Linked DNA regions of Homo sapiens: region 2 is linked to region 1. The links come from fine-mapping of genetic effects on gene expression. A gene starts in region 1. The other region holds a variant in brackets. All regions are shown on one strand. Distances are between the middles of the regions. Region 1 holds the start of A3GALT2 (alpha 1,3-galactosyltransferase 2). Region 2 overlaps PHC2 (polyhomeotic homolog 2).

The links.
Region 2: its variant is fine-mapped to the expression of A3GALT2 in whole blood (INTERVAL, PIP 0.96).

What each region holds. Positions count from the first base shown.
Region 1 is chr1:33,319,548-33,322,454 of GRCh38, reverse strand. It overlaps A3GALT2 (alpha 1,3-galactosyltransferase 2), which reads left to right and starts at 1,357. Exons shown (of 5, transcript NM_001080438.1): 1 at 1,357-1,379. The coding sequence starts at 1,357.
Region 2 is chr1:33,382,497-33,385,403 of GRCh38, reverse strand. All of the region lies in intron 1 of PHC2 (polyhomeotic homolog 2), which reads left to right. Among named protein-coding and RNA genes, the nearest start is that of PHC2-AS1, 34 kb to the right of the region's middle. The variant G/A (reference allele first, on the strand shown) is at 1,456.

The sequences.
Region 1 (2,907 bases):
AACCAACACTCACATCTTAATAACTCCTCTTTGGAAAGCCTATTAAAATGGAACTGTCTTGGAGGAGAAACACACTGATTAGTTGATCCCCAGGGGGTAGAACTAGGGACTGGAAAGCCTGTCCCAGGAGGCAGGGAATGGCTGGCAGGACCCTGAGCTGACGGGAGGAGGAGGATGCTGAGATTGGGGAGTGAGCCCTGGGGAGCCCCCAGGCAAGAACGAACGCCCCATGTGCTGCCGCCTCTCCTGCTGCTGGAGTGCAGGCCACGTGCGCAGGTGCACCACTGGCCTATAGGACTCTGGGCAGTTCTTTTCACTTTCTGGACCTTAATTTTCCCTTTATGGAAGAAAATGAAAACCAGGCCCCACCTGAGTTTGTTGTGTGTAGCAAAGAGGGAGGGAACCAAACCTACTCCTAAAAGAAGATGTGGTGAATTTGATTCACACCAATAAGTATCCATCTTCTTTAGATGAAAAGCTCCAACCTGCTGCAAGTTTGCAGGGTGCACCTGCAATAGGCATTTGCTATTCCTGTTGTTTACACTTCACACTGAATTTCACAGACCTATTTCCATCATGATCCACAATTTAAAGAAATATTTCCCAAACTTGTATACACATTTCAATATCTATCAACTGAAACAAACATTTCATGAAACAAAACCTACCCTTACGTACAATATAGAATATTTTCCATTGTATTCCTGTTCGTATTTTAAAAATCTTGGTCACGACCCACTAAACTCATTACACGGCCTTCAGATAGGTCACAACTGGAACTTTAAAAAGCACTGCCCAGAGTAAATCACAACGGTTCAACATCCACGAATTTACATGGTTCTCTCTCCTGGGTGACTGGTGTATGTACTGGTGTACATTCTACTGAGAAGGTAAAGGGCTCCACTAGGTGAACTGTCCAAGGTCACAGGTGCCGAGTGCCCTTCAGATCTGGCTGAGGCTCTGTGCAGAACGGCTTTTCCTGCGTGGCAAACACCATACCTTGATTGCCAGCTGTTCCCAAGAACCAAAGACACTTCCCCTGGGGAGGGAAGAGGAGTCTGTACAAAATGACAGAGCCTCCAGCCAACCAGAACTGGCCTACTCAGACCCACCCTCTTCCAGGTGATTGGCCCCAAAAGGGTTGCCAGCCCCACTCCACCTTGGGGCCAGCTTCCCCCAAAAGGTTGCATCCCCGGCAGGTCCCTCGCAGGCAGTCCATCCTGACTGCTCCTGTGGGTGCAGCTCCTCAGGTAAAGGGGGAGGAGCTGCTTGTTCCAGATCTCCAGGAGCAGGCCATTTCTTCCCCAGCTCTAAGCTGGGAAAGTTTGCTCCAGGCCATCCTACCTGCTTCCCCATATGGCTCTCAAGGAGGGACTCAGGTGAGGGGGGACAATGGTATGGAGAGGAAGAAAGCTTGGGGACAGCTGAGCTAAGAGGGATCCAGTCTGATGGCTAAAACAGTACCAAGGGGAGGCACCAGAGTGAGCCCAGGAGTACCAGCTGAGCCTCCAGTCCTGGGGAAAGGTGGCTCCGAGAGGGGACATTGCCCCAGGAGAAGAAAGACAATCCGTGTGCATGGACACCGGGGTGGGGGAGGTTGTATTCCACAAGATTTTGTAGCCAATGAAAAGCTGGACTCCCCTTGCTTCCCTTAACTCTAAACCCCCTTGGCGAGCCGGAAAGCAGAGACCCGGGGGTACATTCCCTCCCCGACTGTAACTGAGAGCTCCCTCTATCCCCACTGGGACTGATGGTCCAGGACTAGGAACCTGTGCCCCCTTAAGACCTAATGGCTGATCTTTAACCCTTTCTTGAAGCCAACGAGAGTGGGGAGCAGGGCACAGGGTGGAGCTTGAGGGACCACCTTCTGCAGGTAGAACCTGAACAAGAAATGTGGAGGAGTGGACTGATCAGGGGCCTCCACAGACCACGGGCTCCCAGGCTGGGGCATAGGAGGGGCAGGAGGAGCTGGTGGGTCCCACCCAGTCCTGGGTCTCAGCACCCTCCCAGGCCTGACCACAGGAGTTCACAAGACCAACTCTGCCTGTGTGCCCTGGCTGAGGCCCAGAGCCCAGAATAAGCATCGGTTTGCCCTACCCTGGTTGGGAGGAGGCTGGTGAAGAGGGTGGGACAGCCACAGAGGGGGAGAAAGCCCCTCCAGCCTTTTCCTGCTCCTGTAGTACCTTACGCAGTACCTCGCACACCTCCCACAGTGCACCTCCCGAGGCAGCCTTGCCAGCTCCCAGTACGGGGTTTGACCAGGCTTCTAGGAACCAGAGAAGCCCAGCTGCAGCCAGCCCTCCAGGAGCTCAGACAGGAGCTGAATAGAGTGCGAAGGGAAGAAGCCAAGCCCACGGGGAGAAATAACAGGGCCGAGAACCTTGTGAGATGAGCCTCAGGGCTGAGCTAGGCCCAGGTCAAATGGAACCCAAATGCCATGCTGGAAGCTCTGGCTGGGGGATCGGGCAGTCCTACTCAAAGCCCAACCCCACCCATTACCCGCCGTGCAAATGCCTTGGTGTAAAGTGTAAACAGGAATGGCAAATGCCTACTGAAGGTGCACCCTGAAAACCTGCAGTAGGTTGGGGCTTTTCACCTAAAGAACACGGATACTTATTGGAGGAGAAACAAGCTGATTAGTTGATCCCCAGGGGGTAGAACTAGGGACTGGAAAGCCTGGTGCCCCAGGAGGCAGGGAATGACTGGCAGGACCCTGAGCTGACAGGGGAGGAGAGGATGCTGAGATTGGGGAGTGAGCCGTGGGGAGCCCCCAGGCAAGAACGAACGCCCCATGTGCTGCCTCCTCTCCTGCTGCTGGAGTGCAGGCCACGTGCGCAGGTGCACCACTGGCCTATAGGACTCTGGGCAGTTCTTTTCACTTTCTGGACCTTAATTTTCCCTTTATGG
Region 2 (2,907 bases), 63 kb before region 1:
TTGCTCATTTTTATGGAGTAGAACGTCTCTCCCCTTTTCTAAACTCTCTCTCATGATACTTTGCCTTTGTGTGATTTTTGTTTCCGAAATGCTTTCTCCTATTTATGTTGTTTCATTTTCCGGAAGCTCTGGGAGGTCGGGGTAAGGTATTATGATCTCCACATAATGCTGCTGCCTAGCTCCCACCTAGTCAATGTGTGACTGGGTCTAGTCCCAGCCTTTTGGCCAGGACCTTCTACATCTGCTTTTTGCAGTGACCACAGTCCCACACCCATCACTTCAACACCACTCATCTTTCATTTCCCCTCTCCATTCCCAAATCAAAATTTACATGTCCTAGGCCCTGTTGAGAGTAGCCATCTGGACCCACAAATTTGAGTAAAGGTGCTAATGGCTACTAATAGTTTCAAAGGTCCCTTCTCAGATAACATGGTATTTGCACAGTGTGTTTCGGTATTTTAACCTTGGGTTCCTCATCAGGAGGTGAAGAGCTTCCCAAAGAGCTTCAAGCTTTATTCATTCCTCATTTAACAAAATCTTACTGTTGCTGGCTCGGCACCATGTTAGGCATTAGGAATCTAAAAATAATGGAATCACTACCTAGTAAATAAAATCAGCTGTCCTGCTATGCTATTAAAGTTCAGAAGAAGGCACCAAATCTAGGCTGGGGTACAAAAAGGAAGTCCCTAAGAGGAACAGACGTTATAGCTGAACTGCAAAGGGTGAATGCGCTCCGGCCAGGGAGATGGAGAGTGAGGGGCCTGGGGAGTGGCCCAGGCAGAGGGAAAGGTCTGGGCAAGGGGTGAGACAGCATATGACTAATTCTGGAATCAGCTGTGTGGGAGCACGTGGTAGGCAATGAAGCTGGAGAGAAACAGGAAGATCCCTAAACAGAGTGCTGCCAACATTTTCTTTCCACGTGGAGGTATTTTGAGGTTTCAGCAGGGAAGAAACTATGTTTGGTAACTCTTCCCATCTCAAATTCTAGCCCCTTTTTGCAGGGACTTCATTATGACCATCTTATGGCATCAATGATGACTGCCCCTTTTAAATCTCATATTCAAATGGATAGTGGGGCCCCTTAGAGCAGTGGCTCTCATGCTTCATCAGCATCAGAATCTCCCAGAAGGCTGTGAGAACACAGGCTGCTGAGCCCTGCTCCCAGAATTTCTGATTCCGTAGGTCTGAAGTGGTGCCTGAAAATTTGCATTTTTGGAGAGTTGCCAAGGGACCACATTTTTGAGAAGCCTTGCCTTGGAGCATACAAAGCCATGATATTAACGAGGCTGTTTTTAATGCCTTTGCACCCTTTTTTACCATTAGTTTCAGTTGACCTTTTTAGGCTGGTCAGGTTGAGTATTAGGCAGCATAATAGTTCCCTAAGGCCGCCTTAACAAATTACCACAAACTGGGTGGCTTAAAACAACACAAATGTATCATGTTACCGTTCTGGAG[G/A]CTGGAAGTATGAAATCCAGGTGTCGGCAGGGCCATGCTCCCCCTGAGTCCTTCCTCGCCTCTTCCTAGCTTCTGGTGGCTGCAGGTGTTCTTTGGCTGGTGGCAGCATAGCTCCAATCTCTGCCTCCATCTTCACGTGGCTGGCTTCTCCCCGTGTGTGCCTGTTTTCACATGGCGTTCTTTTATAAGGACACTGCTTATATTTGATTAGGGGCCCATAGAAGACACAGAATATATTTTGCTCTGCCTTACAGCAGTGAGTCCAGGGCTGCCCAAGTCTAGACAAACTCATCCATCCCGTCCCCAAGCATTCAGCATCTGCACAGTGTGGCTTTCACTGTACATCCCTTCCAAAAGACAGCAAATCCTTCTTTTTCCTCCTCATATTCTTCAACCAACCAGCACCACCTTGTTATAGAAATACTTGATATAACCTGCCTTTTATAAATTAGGAAGAAAACAGTAAGGTTTCAGAAAGTTTACTCATTTAAATTTATAGTGTTTTGCATCACAATGAAATCATTCTGTTTGGATTGCTAGGACTATATGACCAGCTTTAATTCCTCATCCTTCACTTCTATTTTTGTTGGCCTTCATTTACTTACTTTGGTTTCTAGAGACACTAAAGGTGGCAACATGCAGAGGACAGGGGAGAGGGAGGGACCTTTTGAGATGGTTTGAGCTGCATCCATTTGGACTGCTCCCAGTGAGTCAGTGGCTTCAGACTGGAACAAATCAGGACACTTATGTTCATGCAGCAGCCGAGAGGTGTAAGGAGGCCTCCCCCAGGTCCCCTAAGTCTAGGGAGTCTGAATCTTCTGTTATTACTGCCTTATGCCTCTGGCGGAGGGGCATCCAGAAAGGAGAAGCAGAGCCACAGCAAAGGAATATGTTCACCCATCTCTTCAGACTCTCCATACCAAGCCGCCTCATGATAATACCAGCAGCCACGATGGGGCTGACGAGACTTCTCATTTCCTGCCCAGCTCTGATTCCATTAGGAAAAACCTCACCCTGCCTTACCCCAGGGCTTTAGGCTAGATTTGGAGAGAGGTTTTCAGTATCCTTCCCCTCTGCTTTCCCGGAACCTCTGTCACAGCTGTAATCCACAGCAAATGGATTTCCCTGACACTGGGGACAAAGGCCTAGTGTTTCGTAGACTTGGCGGCTCCTGGGAGGGCAGAACCATCAGCGTTTCTCCAGCTGCTGGTCTCAGGCCCTGTGGGCAGCAGAGACCTGTAATAAGATCACTATCCAAGCCAGTTATATTCAGCACATCATTCAAAGTGGCCCATTGCAGTTAGGAGGGGAGAAGTGACTTAAATAGGAATCATAGCCCTTCAGAGCCCGGGCTCATACAAAACCACACAGTGAGTAGGAACCCAGAGAAAAACAGACTTCTAGTTCTTGATGTTAGCCATTAATGAGATTTGGCTGTGATTTATAATGGGA